Linked DNA regions of Homo sapiens. The protein of the gene in region 1 purifies or fractionates together with the protein of each later gene. This does not show direct contact. Each region holds a gene or a part of one and is shown on either strand. Other genes may lie near its edges.

The links. The genes of interacting proteins can lie anywhere in the genome.
Region 2: the proteins of DOCK5 (region 1) and GPN2 purify together in Homo sapiens (affinity purification with mass spectrometry; 2 studies listed by BioGRID and IntAct, with this or other methods). This does not show direct contact.

Annotation. Positions count from the first base shown.
Region 1 is NC_000008.11:25,362,673-25,369,694, reverse strand, and holds part of DOCK5 (dedicator of cytokinesis protein 5), read right to left. Parts: intron 6,649-7,022; coding exon 6,554-6,648; intron 5,070-6,553; coding exon 4,991-5,069; intron 2,826-4,990; coding exon 2,725-2,825; intron 1,504-2,724; coding exon 1,445-1,503; intron 1,125-1,444; coding exon 970-1,124; intron 140-969; coding exon 54-139; intron 1-53. UniProt on the Homo sapiens protein: Guanine nucleotide exchange factor (GEF) for Rho and Rac. GEF proteins activate small GTPases by exchanging bound GDP for free GTP. Along with DOCK1, mediates CRK/CRKL regulation of epithelial and endothelial cell spreading and migration on type IV collagen.
Region 2 is NC_000001.11:26,887,265-26,894,701, forward strand, and holds the start of GPN2 (GPN-loop GTPase 2), read right to left. Parts: upstream 3,020-7,437; 5' UTR 2,833-3,019; coding exon 2,422-2,832; intron 1,862-2,421; coding exon 1,705-1,861; intron 1-1,704. Other genes in the region: GPATCH3 (G patch domain-containing protein 3), read right to left, coding at 3,746-3,962, 5,147-5,274, 5,406-5,527, 6,125-6,184, 6,972-7,146. UniProt on the Homo sapiens protein: Small GTPase required for proper localization of RNA polymerase II and III (RNAPII and RNAPIII). May act at an RNAP assembly step prior to nuclear import.

The DNA.
Region 1 (7,022 bases):
CTCTATTACTAAATGACACCACTGACTTCAGGTTTCGTTCCTGAAATACTCACAGTTTTTCCAGAAGAACCTTGTATTGTTCGTCTCCTCTGCCCCCTTCTACCTCCTGGTCCAGCTTTGTGATCAGCTCATTCTCAAACTGAAAGTAGAGGCAGAATTTCACAGGATAATGTTGCATCCTTAGAAGAAGACATGGCCAACTTTCTAGACTTGGCCAACCCATTCGCTGAGTTGTGAACTGTTTCCAGCACAGACAGGGAGGATCACAGAGGGTCACTCATAAACTGTGCACCAAGGCCCTATCAAAATCTTCTAACAAAGTCTCATGTTACTTTGTCCTTTGCATTACATTTGATTAAAAACATATTATCCAAAACATTGCTTTCTGTTACAACTATTCATATAAAAATAGAATAATAATTCTTGTTTTTCTATTTTACTTCAGTTTCATGTCTAAGTCTCTGCAGTGAGATTGCTTTTGCAGAGGTTCATAGATGCGAAATCGTCCTTTCAATATTAATACACTTTGTAGATAAGAAAACAGAGGCACAGAGAAGACATACCAGGAAAATGACATTCTCAAAGCTACAGAGTAATGGATTAGAACTTAATCCATTGCACTGCTTTCAGCCGTACTATAATAGATAGGTTTTTAAATTCAATTCACTACATTATTCTCTAGGCTATACTGAAACAGCTAGGATTAAAATGCATGAAGTTAACTTCCTTTAATTTTCTACAGACAGGTGTTGCCTTAGGAAAGACATGTAGCAAAAAAATCTTTTCCAGGCTCTGGGTTGCACTGTCTGACTCTATCTCTAATTGCTTTATAAAATGAAATGTAAAGTGAACTTTCAGATCAACATGGACTTGCATTATTAAGGTTACTGCTTCTCTATATAGAAAGAAATGAGTTATGATTTGACTATATGTCCATTTACTAATATTACGCGGTCTGCCACTTCTTACCATATGGAAATTGCCATTTCCACTGAAATTGAACTCACACTGCATCATATCAAAGAAAATGGGGATTGTGGCTTTCCGGAGCTCTACTTCAGGGGTCAGAGTGACCTCCAGAATGGGACCCACCATGGATGGGATGAATTTGATTTTGTGGGGACCTGAAATGAAAGTGAATGAAGATATTAAAAAATTATTTCACTGAAAGTAAAGTGTTAAAATCTTCCTCCACAAGTTCCATAAGAAAAGAAAAGGTTAAAACAACTCAATTCAGAAGTGAGTGACTCAGATTCTGATAGCATGTGGATGCCAGAGTAAGAGACAGTTCATTGTCAATGAAACCCACAAATCAACTTTCACTTCCAGACACACAGACAAATACATCTCAGGGTTATCTGGATTAAAATAAAAAAAAGACTTTATCGTGGGATGCTTATCACTCAGAGGTTGTGATCAGGCCTGTTCAAGGCTAGACACTCACCCAGGTTATACCACATGTCCCGGATTCTAAAGCCGATTTCCTTTCTCATGTCCCCATATCTAGGAAGAAGATCATAAACTAGAAGGAGGATTTTCAGTAGAAATGAATTGCATAAACACAATAAGAAGGAAAGTAAAAACAGTCTGTGTCTCTCTTGGTCACTCTTAAGGCCCAACCTTAAGAGATGAGGTTCATACCTAAACGAGCCCCCAAAAGGAATGAGGCGCACAGAGGCCGGGGGACCTTGTGCCGCAATAAAGCCAAATGGAAACGCTGAAAAATAGCTGAGAAGATGAGATTAACAAACTCACTTCAGGGAGAAGAGTGAGGCACAGACAAAGCCAAACAAAACACGGCAAACACTGATGAAAAGGAAGGTGAATGAAGTATGATCATACAGTACTGTGACTAATGCCTAACAGGTGACTAAATACTTATATACTTTATAGACTGATATTGGGGTAATATACATCCATTCTAGCGTGTTTTTCAAAATATTCACATTGGAAGGCTCTACACCATGCACTCTCAATGGGAGTGATACTGTCCACAAAGGGATAAATATTGGTCCTTGGGAGCAAAAAATACTTTGCTGTTTTTGTATATGTAGGCAGTTTTTGAGGGAGGAACCAGAAGTAGAGGGACACTAAATAATTTTCCTACATATCGCAGATATCCCAACAAGGGGAACACAACTAAAATTTCAAAGTCTTCAAATAATACATTCCTCAAGTTATTTTTTAACGACATGGTCTTTGGATTCCAGTCTCTCAATGAAATGAAATGCTTCCCTAAATCTCTTATCACTTCTGCACATAATTCCATTTTGAATTCCAAACCAGGAATCTGGAGGGCATTTTAATGCAATGTCTGAGACCTGGCTTTCTCTGCTGAAATGGCAGGGAGGTGGAGCAACTGTGCTGAAGGAGTGTGCTTTGTGAAGCGCTATGAATGAGGAGGTACTATGCCTGCAATTTGGGGAAGCTGCCAGCAGAGGCGCAGCTGTTCTTGGGGATGGGCAAGCTGACAGCCAAGGTCCGTCTCCAGGTACAGATTTGATAAAAAGCATGGGATGACTGATGGGAAGATGGTTGGGCCTTAAGAAAAGAGAGCTGAACCTGGGTGAATGTGAGGCCTATTAAGTAATTAGTTGAAGACTTACCTCACTAACAACATGGGTAGCCACTAAATAGTAATTTCTGTGATACCTAAAATATTGCTCTCAATGTAAACAAATGGAAGAAGCCCCTTCCCGATCTTAACTTTAAAAGGACACTTACTTTTTAACAATTTTGTTGCGCTTGGCTTGTGAGAAGGTTTCAAGCTGAAGGGACTCATGGGTGAGAAATGCAACTGCCAAATGGAAGTAATTGTTCCAGAGCTGTTCAAAATTAATTGTGTGGGTAAAGGGAAATGAAAAATAACATTAATAAGGGCCATAATAAAACAATGTCACATGGTAAAAAGTCATTAACAAGAGATTAATGAAAGAACAAAATACAATCTACATTCTTCTTAGGTTTTGATTATTCAATCCTAAAAGTTTTGAGACTTAATGTTAAGCTTTTTAAAAAAATTTAAGCTATTATATTTTTCTTTACTCCTGGGATAAAGGAAAACTGCTGCCAAGAAGTGTATCTATTTATAGTATGTACTTTGGCACTATGTTTCAAAAGTCCTAAAAGTTTGCCAAACTTTTGAATTAGTAAACACTTTTAGGACTTTATCCTGATGAAATAACCATGAATTTTGTTGTTGTTGTTTGATCCAGAGTCTCACTCTGTTGCCCAGGCTGGAGTACAGTGGTACAATCTCGGCTCACTGCAACCTCCGCCTCCCAGGTTCAAGCGTCCTGCCTTATCCTGACGAGTATCTGGGATTACAGGCACCCACTACCAGGCCTAGCTAGTTTTTGCATTTTTAGTAGAGATGGAGTTTCGCCATGTTGGCCAGGCTGGTCTTAAACTCCTGACCTCAGGTGATCTGCCCGCCTTGGCCTCCCAAAGTGCTGAGACTATAGGCGTGAGCCACCGTGCCCAGCCAAGCACGAATATTTTTAAATATTTAAAGGAAGGAAGTCCATCACAGTGTTATTTAATATAATAGAAAATGGAAACAATCTAAATGTTCGTAAGAAGAATTTGGTTAAATACATCATGGACCAGTCATAGAACAGATGATATTCAGCCATTAAAAACAGGAAAATATTCAACATTATTGAAAAGATCACAGATCATTGAAAAAGGAAAACAGATTAACAGAGTACCAAAGAACTGCACAGCTCAATTCCATTTTGGCAAATATACATACACATACATACAATATATATTCATCTATATGTGCATGCATCTCTGTGTGTGTATGTGTGTATACTTTCCTCTACTTATGATTTTCAACTTTTAAAGTTCTGAGGCAGGAAAACAGGGCCTGGAGGCAGGGCACTGAAGGCCAATTCACACTGACTTCCTAGAACTGAATCAAAAGGAAAACCCCACCTCTCCACACCCAAGTAACAAAAGGATCAGAGGCTACCCCTTTGCACTCTGTGGCAGATGAAAAATTGAAAGTACCTCTGATTAGTCCCCTCCCACAATTGGTGGGAGGGTCAGACTGGTCACATGCTACTCCTTCATTTACATAGGGTGTAACCAAGTAACCAATGGGAAAACTTCTACAGGGTATTTAAACGCCAGAAAATTCTGTAACCAGTGCTCTTGAGCTACTTGCTTGAGCCTGCTCCCACTCTGTGGAGTATACTTTCATTTCAATAAATCTGGCTTTTATTGCTTCATTCTTTCATTGCTTTGTTTGTGCATTTTGTTCAAAACGTCAAGAACTTGGACAATCTGTAGTCAAGGACCTCCACTGATAACAGTTCCACAGATACACGCAAAGACAAAGAACACAGAAAGCACATCACCCACAAAATGCAGAGTACTCTGGAAGGTAAGCTCCATGACAGCAAGGAACTTATCTGCCTTCACCAGGGAAATGCCCCTACCAGGGCGCAAAACAGGGCCCTGTACATGTAAGTACTCTAACATTTGTTAAATGGATGAATGGATAAGTAAATGAATGAATGAATGAAAATAGAGCTAGCGGTCATCCGTTTTGCAATTCCTTTGGACTTTCAACAAACTGTGCATAAGAACTGTTCTTTAGAACCAAACTCATTTGTCGGTAGGAGAGTTACCTGTGTGCTTATTTGTAGCCATGTGTGTCTATGTGCATTTGTGTAAATATACAAAGGGTCAACTCCAAATGTTTATAGCGACAAGGAGGACTATTTATATTTTTGATCTTCTACTATTACTCTTTAAGATTTTTTTTTTACATATGTTACCTTTATAGAAAGAAGAAACCACCCCTATTTTGTTGTGTTTGGAGGACAGTGTGACAGGCATATGTGCTTTAGGAAATGAAAAAACACAGGAAAACCTTTTTCATGTGAAAACAGTGAAATCTGAGGAGACATTTTCCAAATTCATATAGTTCTCTTGCCATGGCCAAGAATTCTAGAAGCAGGTAGGTGAGTCACATGCCTACCTGAAGTTCAAAGCTTGCCTGATCCATGAAGAATCTTGTGAGAACTTCAGCAAACTGATTTATAGCACGGAGAAAAACCCTGCGGAAGGAAAACACCAGATAAAGAAGCCAACTGTATGTCCTTTGAAACCTTTTCCCACCTATATTAAGAACTAAACCAAACCAAACCTGAACTTGGCATCATAAGACCTCATAATCTAACAGTGTCCTTGCAGACAACAGCATAACACCATCCGCAGATGGGGCACAGGAGGTCAGTTTACAGAACAAACAAGAAGAGCCACTCAGGGCCACATCCCAATTTAGGTAATTGAAGGTAGATCTGAGACTGCAAACCAGGACTCTTAAGCCTCAGAGGAGGGTAATATATATAGACTCTATTATGATCCTTCTGTTTAAGCTTAGGGTTTCTGGTGTAATTTTTTAAATCTAATCTGTACATAGCAGAGAAGGCTTCTTCTAATCAGGTGTTAGAGTAGAATTACTCAGAATTGGGTATCATGTAGAGTTAATAATAATGCTTACAATAATGGTTTATTTATCTCATTAAACTCTAACACTCTTTTAATATAATATATATTCAGTTCATTTCACTTCTGTTCAACAAGTATTTGTTGTGGGCTAGCAATTGCAAGGCACAGGCTCACGTCTGTGTTGAAAGACACAGTTTCTGATCTTAAGAAATTTACAGCTTGGTTGGGGAAATTAACAACATGTACATCTATTACCCAACATAGAATCTGAAAACAATTCTATAAGAAGGTTTGAATGGGGTATGGAAAATCGAAGGAAGAAGAGATGACATCCAGGTCAGAAAGGCTTCCTCTGGAGGTGACGCTTCAGAAGAACCTTATGGAATAGCTGGAATGCTGACAGCCAGAGGTTATGGGGAAGGCACTGCTAGCGGAAGACCGGTGTGAGGCAGAGCAGACCATGTGTTCAGGGACTGGGCAGAGGCCAGTTTGGTTGGAGTACAGGTAGCATACACAGGGAAGTAGCAGAAGCAACTAGTTAGTTTGGCACTGTGTATCAAAAGCCCTATAATTTCACCAAACTTTTGAACTACTAAATTATTTTAGGAGTATATCCTGATAAAATAACCATGGATATTTTTAAATATGTAAAGCAAGGAAGGCCATGACAGTGCTATTTCACATTAATAGAAAATGGAAAGAATCTAAATGTTCATAAGAAGAATCTGGTTAAATACATCATGGACCGGTCATAGAACAGACACTAACTGGTGAGCCCTGAATATCAGGATGACACAGGCCACGTGGAGCCACGGAAAGGTGCAGTGGAGAGTTGAGGATGACAATTACCATGAGAGCACTGAAGAGACGACGCTAGAGAAGGGAGTAGAGAGCCCGAGGTGGAGCAAAGGCAATTACCCTGGGAAAATCAAGATCACGAGCACATAAATTAGGACCTCTGGAGCAGGAAGATCCTCACTTTACAGATGATGGGTTTGAGGCAAAGGGATTTAAAGACATTTCCCAAAGTTCACACAGCAGCCTTAGGTATTCAGACAAATGCCTCAGGGCCAGCCATGGGCTGTCTCACCTGTTTTGAGTCATATTCATCACCATCCAATCTTTGGCATAGACATTCTTTCCAATCAGGTCCTTGAACATGATAAAAGTTTCCATGAGGAAGTCCTGCGGAGAACAGAGGAGTGGTTGGGGGAAAACTGGGTTACGTTCATAGTCTTTATTCTGGCGTGTATACAAGCAGAACCACAACCTCAGAACAGGATGTTCCTAGCCCCACAGTAACAGCCCATCTTTCAAGGGTTTTAGGAATAACAAAGCATTCTTACAGCTGGCTGTGATGCAATTTGATTTTTATATTGTAGGACCCTATAAGGAAGATGAGGACAAAAAGAATCATCCACATTTTACAAATGGTACAACTGAGGCTGAGAAAAACTAAAGGACTCACTTAAGGGCATAGAAAGTAGGAAGGAGGGTTGGGTGTAGTGGCTTACACCTGTAATCTCAGCACTTTGGGAGGCCGAGGTGGGCAGCTTGGC
Region 2 (7,437 bases), on another chromosome or scaffold:
ATAAATCATTTCTCACTAAAAGAAGTAAGTTGGACTTCCCCCTAGTGGCCTGTTTCTGCCCAGAAAACTTAAGTATCTGGGCTCCCTGGCAGCTCTATCCTAAAGTAAGCTGAGGACTCTACATCACTCCATGTCCAGACTAGAAGCTAACTGGCCTCCCTGGACAAGGTCCCGACACCTCCCTTTCCCAACAACCTCCCTATTGCTCATGTGCTGGTCATTTTATCTGTCTTCTCTAGGTTCCTTTGTTGCTAGAGATGCTATTTAGGGAACAATGTCCCCAGTTCAGGAGAGTACTAATTTTTTTTTTTTTTTGAGACAGAGTCTTGCTCTGTCGCCCAGGCTGGAGTGCACTGGCATGATCTCGGCTCACTGCAAACTCCCTCTCCTGGGTTCACGCCATTCTCCTGCCTCAGCCTCCTGAGTAGCTGGGACTACAGGTGCCCGCCACCATGCCCAGCTAATTTTTTGTATTTTTAGTAGAGACGGAGTTTCACAGTGTTAGCCAGGATGTTCTCAAGCTCCTGACCTCGTGATCCACCTGCCTCGGCCTCCCAAAGTGCTGGGATTACAGGCGTGAGCCACTGCGCCTGGCCTAATTTTTTTTTTTTGAGACGGAGTTTCACTCTTATTGCCCAGGCTGGAGTGCAATGGCGAGATCTCGGCTCACTACAACCTCCGCCTTCCAGGTTCAAGCGATTCTCCTGCCTCAGCCTCCCGAGTAGCTGGGATTACAGGCATGCACCACCATGCCTGGCTACTTTTTTGTATTTTTAGTAGAGATGTGGTTTCTCCATGTTGGTCAAGCTGGTCTCGAACTCCTGACCTCAGGTGATCTGCCCACCTCGGCCTCCCAAAGTGCTGGGATTACAGGCGTGAGCCACCACGCCCAGCCGAGAGTACTAATTTATCAAGAAAAAAAAGCTGGCCACTGGGACTCTAGCCAACTCCCCTGCCTCATACCAGCCTGCTTCTACCTCAATCTTCCCTATTTTGTCCCTGGCCTCCCACCCCTTCTCTGTCTCTGTGCCAGGTGAGAATATAGCCTCCTTCTGTGAGGACAGAAGGAGGCTGTCTAGGAGCCAGGAAGCAGACTCTCACCAGACACCAGATCGGCTTGTGTCTTGATCTTGGACTTACCAGCCTCCAGAACTGTGAGAAATAAATATTTATTGGCTAAGCCATCTGGTCTATGGTATTTTTGTGATGGCAGCACAAACTGACTAAGACAAGGCCTTTATTCCTACTAGTGCCTCTGCATAGAACAGTCCTCCCTTGGCTGGCTCCTTCTCACCATTCATGTCTCAGCTCAGATGCCACTGCTTCAGAGCAGAAGTGAGAAACTGAGGTCCAGAGAGATGAACTGACTTACCCAGACCACACGATGATTCAGTGGCAGATCCAGAATTTAAACTCATGCCTGTTTTACTCCAAAGCTCACTCACTTCACTCCCAAATATTCACTGTCGTATCACTTTAATTCCTTTGTAACACCTAACACCATCTGTAGCTCTCTTGTCTCCAAAATCTACAACGGTAACTAGCACAGAGTGGCACAAAATAAATGGGCAGGAGTTAGAACCTGCCTGTGGCTACTATCACCAGACCACGCAAGGCACCAGAGGCAGCTACCTTCAGCTGAGATGTCTGCTTCATTCTAGCCCAGCTGCTGCCCTGCTCTTCGCCTGGAACAGAAGCTCTTACCCAGCTTCCCATAATGCTCAATGAGGTCCATCTTGGAAAGGAGGTTGATGTGGGGCAGTTCCACGTGCAGCATGGTGGCCAGGGAGGTACACAGTACTGAAATGAACTTGGCAGGGTCTGTGCAGTAGTGAGAATCCACGAGGTGGACGGCAGTCAGCTGGGAGGGAATAGACAGGGTGAGAGTGGCCTGGAGAAACAGGGATCAGCATTCCCTCATGAGAATGAGGGCTTGAGGACAGAGGGGAAGCTTTCCCCATTAGTCTCCTGCCTCTGTTTCTTTCTAATAACCACCCTGGTTTCCTTCTCCCAGGAAATAGGAGTCATTTTTTTTTTCTTACAAGAGGTCTTGCACTGAGCCTCCCAGTGGGCAAGGGGTTTAAATCCCATGGCATCTGACTCCACTCTTTCATTTACTTTTGCCCACCAATTTACAACAATCTCCATGCCACTTTCGACATTAACCCCTTCCATACTTCCAAAATCGCCAAGTTGGCTACTAACACATTTTACACGTGAGGAAACTGAGGTTCAGAGTGATGAACTGACTTATCAACACCACACAGCCAGTCAGTAGCAGAGCCAGATTCTGAACTCATGCCTGTTTTACTCCAAAGCGACCCAGCCCCTACCTCCCTGTGTGACATGGGGGCGTGGCGTCTGTCCTCCCTGTCTCAGTTACTCCATCCGCAAAATGGGCCTCCCCGCCCTGAGACGCACCCTGAGGTCCCACTGCGCCATTTGGGAGAAGATGCTGCGCAAGGCGCCGTGATGCGTGCAGAGCTCCACCTGGCCTGGGCAGTCGAAGAGGAAGTAGTGGCCGCGGAGGGGGTCGAGCTTGGCACGCAGCCAGTCCAGGTTGGCTTCCAGGTACTCCATGCAGTAGAGCAGGCCGCCGTTGGGCCCCAGGCGCAGCGCGTCCATCACGTCGCCCAGCCCCACCAGCTCGCCCACGTCCACGGCACACTCGTACGGCAGCCCCTCGTTGGCCGGGTCCAGGTTCACCACCGCCACGCGCCGGCCCAGCGCGCGCAGGAACTCACTCATGCCCAGGCAGTACGTGGTCTTCCCTGAGCCCGGCGGGCCGATCACCGCCTGCCCGAAGGCCGTGGTCGGAGCGGCCCCTGCCATTGGCGGCCCGCGGCCCGGAGCAGGTCAACTCACAGGGAAAACGGGGCAGGTAGCCGCGCCGGAGACGAGACTGAGGGCGAGGGTCCCAGTACGTATACCTCGTTGGCGGCCAGCGTCACTCGCCTCAGGCGGAACAGCTGAGACCGTGTCGCGCAAAAGGAGATAACAGGCCGATACTAACTAGACTAACTCGACTTCCGGACAGCGTCGGAAACGGCGAGCCAACGAGAGGAAGTCCCGCCCTCACGGCGGGGACGAAGCTAGACGCCGAGGGGCGGGCGGCGCAGCCGCATTTCTCTCGCGGGTAGTGGGTCGAATGTGGGGTCTTTGCGGGAAAATCGCTCTCGGAATTTCTCTAACCTTCAGACTCGAATTAGAAAAGTAAGGGAGCTCCAGTAGTAAACGTCTTTATTCTTCCGTGACGTCGCACACCCAAGCCACCTCCCGCGGACTCTCCGCTGGCAGTCCCACCCAGTGAGGGTAGAGGCGGTGGAGGGCCCACCCAAGGCCGGCTCTTCCAAGCACCACAAATCCTCTCCTCGCCCAGGTCCCTTTCCCCCTTTCTGGCCTTCGTGGGGACACCTTCAGAGTCCCCAAGGAAGGCTGTGCTGATAGCCTCACTCAACCCAGCTTTTCAAAGTTCTGCAGGAGGCAAAGGGCAAGCCCAGAGATTAGGGTTAGAGACCAAAGACAAGCGGTCGTTACCCCTAATATCCAAGGGGAGGGGACGGGAGGGGGCTTTTTGTAAAAATGCCCCTGAGGTATAGAACCGGCAGGCAGGCAGGCTCGGAACAAAACACCCTGAACCAGCCACGAAGACTGCTGCTCCCAGACTCCTTTCTGCTTCAGTGGTAGATGAGGCCAGGGCAGAGGGTTTTCATCATGTAGCTATGAAAGGAAGCCCCCAACCCGGTCAGTCAGGCAATGAGGGGCTGTCTGAAGCACAACTGGAACCCCTCACAAAGGCCATGTCTGTCCGAAACTTCATGCTGGTGGGTGGCTGGCGGCGGAGCAGTGACTCCGTCTGGTCTTGGGGTAGAGGCTCATCATAGATGGTGGAGATGAGCCCCAAGCCATTTCTACGGGGCCTCTTCAGTTGCCCAAATGGCTGTAGCTTCTCTCCATGGTACCTGGATAAAAACGGGCTCTCAGTGAGAAGGCTGCTCTCAAACTCCAGTTAAAGGGGTTGGGAGAGGACGGGGAAGTAGTTACTACATATCTGGTTTGTCCAAAGACAGAGGCTTTAAATCTGGGTCTTTGTTCTCCAGCCCTCTTATCTATCCATTGACAGTGCCAGCAAGAAGGGGCCTCATATAAAATTTTCATTCTGTCACTACAGACTTCCTAATAGTAACCATCAAGTCCAAACTCCTCCAACAAAGGGTATGAATGATCTTGTTAAGCCTTAGGGCTTACTCTTTAAAAAAAAAAAAAAAGTCAGATTTACTTTATTTATTTATTTATTTCTGAGATGGGGTCTCACTATGTCACCCAGGCTGGATTGTAATGGCGTGATCTCGGCTCACTGCAACCTCCACCTCCTGGGTTCAAGCGATTCTCCTGCCTCAGCCTCCAGAGTAGCTGGGACTACAGGCGCATGCCACCATGCCCAGCTAATTTTTTTTTTTTGTGACAGAGTCTTGCTCTGTCACCCAGGCTAGAGTGCAGTGGCGCCATCTTGGCTCACTGCAACCTCTGCCTCCTGGGTTCAAGCGATTTTCCTGCCTCAGCCTCCTGAGTAGCTGGGATTACAGGCACCCACTACCGTGCCCAGCTAATTTTTTGTATTTTTAGTAGACACAGGGTTTCACCATCTTGATCAGGCTGGTCTGAAACTCCTGACCTCGTGATCCACCCGCCTCAGCCTCCCAAAGTGCTAGGATTACAGGCATGAGCCACTGCGCCCGGCTAATTTTTGTATTTTTAGTAGAGACGGGGATTTCACCATGTTGGCCAGGCTGGTCTCTAACTCCTGACCTCAAATGATCTGCCCACCTGGGCCTCCCAAAGTGTTGGGATTACAGGCGTGAGCTACCACGCCCGGACTTTTTATTTTTCTAACAGAGACAGTCTCATATGTTGCCCGGCTGGTTTCAAACTGGGCTCAAGGAATCCTACCACTTCAGCCTCCCAAAGCGCTAGGATTACAGGCTTGAGCCACCGTGCCTGGCCCAGATCCACTTTTTCCTCTTAACTGTTTTGAATTTCATCCCGCACGAGTACCCAGCAGCCATGCCAAAACCAGTGGGAAGAGGGAAACCAGGGCATAGCTGAAAGGCTTGGGCCCCCAGGGAAGTCCCTCAGTCACACTTACCCCAATCCACGCTTGCATCTGGGGTGTTGGCCATCACTATCCAGGGCCTCAGGCACCCCTGAGCACCTGCAGCCCAGGCCCTGGCCCTCAGCCCAGCCCTGCCGCTCCATCACCTTCCGCCCAATGCCCTGCAGAGTGAAGGGACAAGACTCAAGAAATGGGGCTCCTGCTGGGAGCAGGGAGAATGGGGATGGGAGAAGGAATTAAAGTAGAGAAGGAAAAGAGAGGGGTCCATGGGGTGGGCACAGTGCTAACTCACCTTGGTGTGGCGCTCAAAGGTGCCCACCTGGCGTTCGATCACAGAGCCATCTTCCTGTCCATCTCGGAGTCTCTGTTCCAGACGCATTTGGACAGAGTCTCGGGCATCCTTGTCTCCACCATCTGAGGAAACAGAGCTCAGTTTATGGAAGCGTCCCTCTCAAAGAAGGGGGAAGAATCAGGTTTCTAGGACCCCCTCGTAAGATTGACTTATTCATTTTAATAGTGTTCTGTATCTCTCTCATTAGACTGGGAGCTCCCCAAAAGTAGGAACCATGGCTCTCCCCAATCATACAGATGAGAAGATTGTGGTGCAGAAAAGTAACAGAGCCAACAAATGACAGAGAGAGGATTAGAACCCAGGTCTTCCCTCCCCTACTTGGCTATTTCCCCCACCCGGGTCATTTCCTCTTCTAAAATCTAAACCCTTACTAGAGCCTGAGCTTCTGACCAGCCCACCCTACCAGGGCCTGACCATCAGACCTAGAGCCCCTAAGGGCTATCTATCCCTCCTCCTCCTCCAAGAAAGGATGAAGGCTCTGTCCAAAACTAGCACTTAATGTACACAACCAAAGATGTTTTAAGAGGAACCCTCTCAGTGGGCTACCCCAAGGGAACGGGAACGGTACCCTGTCTCAGCCTTTGCTAGCTCTGGTAAAGTGTCACTGCAAGGCCAGGGCACCTGTTTCACCTCCAGTATTGCCACTCCTTGCCCAGTACCTCTGTCATAGTACACACTCATGTCCACATCCCAGTCATCGGCTGTCTGTTCATCAAAATCTGTAGGGACAGAAAAGCATCCAACAGAGTACATTAAGGACTCTCAGTTCTATTAAGAGTTAAACCTAGAGTTTTTTTGGCTTTTTTTTTTTTTTTTTTTTTGAGACAGAATCTCATTCTGGAGTGCAGTGGCATGACCTTGGCTCACTCCAACCTCTGCCTCCCGGGTTCAAGTGATTCTCCTGCCTCAGCCTCCCAAGTAGCTGGGACTACAGGTGCATGCCACCATACCCAGCTAATTTTTGTATTTTTCATAGAGACGAGGTTTCACCATGTTGGCCAGGACGGTCTCGATCTCTTGACCTCGTGATCTGCCCACCTCAGCCTCCCAAAGTGCTGGGATTACAGGCGTGAGCCACTGCACCCAGCGGGGCATTTGTTTGTTTTAGAGAAGGTCTCACTCTGTCCCCCAGGCTGGAGTAAAGTGGTGGAATCATAGCTCACTGCAACCTTGAACTCCTGGGCTCAAGTGATCCTCCTGCCTCAGTCTCTTAAGTAGTTCGGACTACAGGCATGAGCCATTGCACCCAGCTTGTTTGTATTTTAAGATCCTTCCTCTGGGAGGGTTATTCAGAATTTGTTGGGGGCGGGGCGGGGGGCATTTTCTCTCCATCTCACTGATCCCCACTCTTAAAAAGGATGATTGGTCTCTCGTATACAATAGAGGTCAGCCTGTTCCCTAGCCTTTTGTTTGGGCTCACCACTACAGAATCTACCGTGTGGAACAGGGAACCCCAAAAGAATGCAGCAGGGGTCACCCCTGCCTTTGCCTGGGTACCAGCATTACCTCCTTCTTCCTCCTGCCAGAACTGGGCATCAGTATAAAACACCAGGCCAGAGCCACCCTTCTCCCACTTGAGCTCAATCTCCTCCTCAAAGAGCTGCTCAGTGGTCCGCTCCTGCCCGGTCACGTCCTCATGCAGCGCTTCATGCCGTTCCCATTCCTCACCCCGGTCATCGTCCTAAAAGGCAGGGAGAGGTGATTTGCCTGAGCTTCCTGACCTCATGCCCCGAGGGAGGGAAGCTCAGGGCACAGGAGGCATGTGTGGCTAGCCTCAGCGCCATTCCTTCAGATTTCTCCAAGAAGCAGCACATATTTGGCCCCTGACCAACACGTCTCCAGCCCGATAATTCTCAACAGTTTGCTCCTGTCCCCACAAGCCTGACTCACCTCTGCGCGTTTGGCCATGTTGTTCCCTGCCTGAAATACCCACTTTCCTCTCCCACACCCTTCTCTTCTCCACTTGATTAAA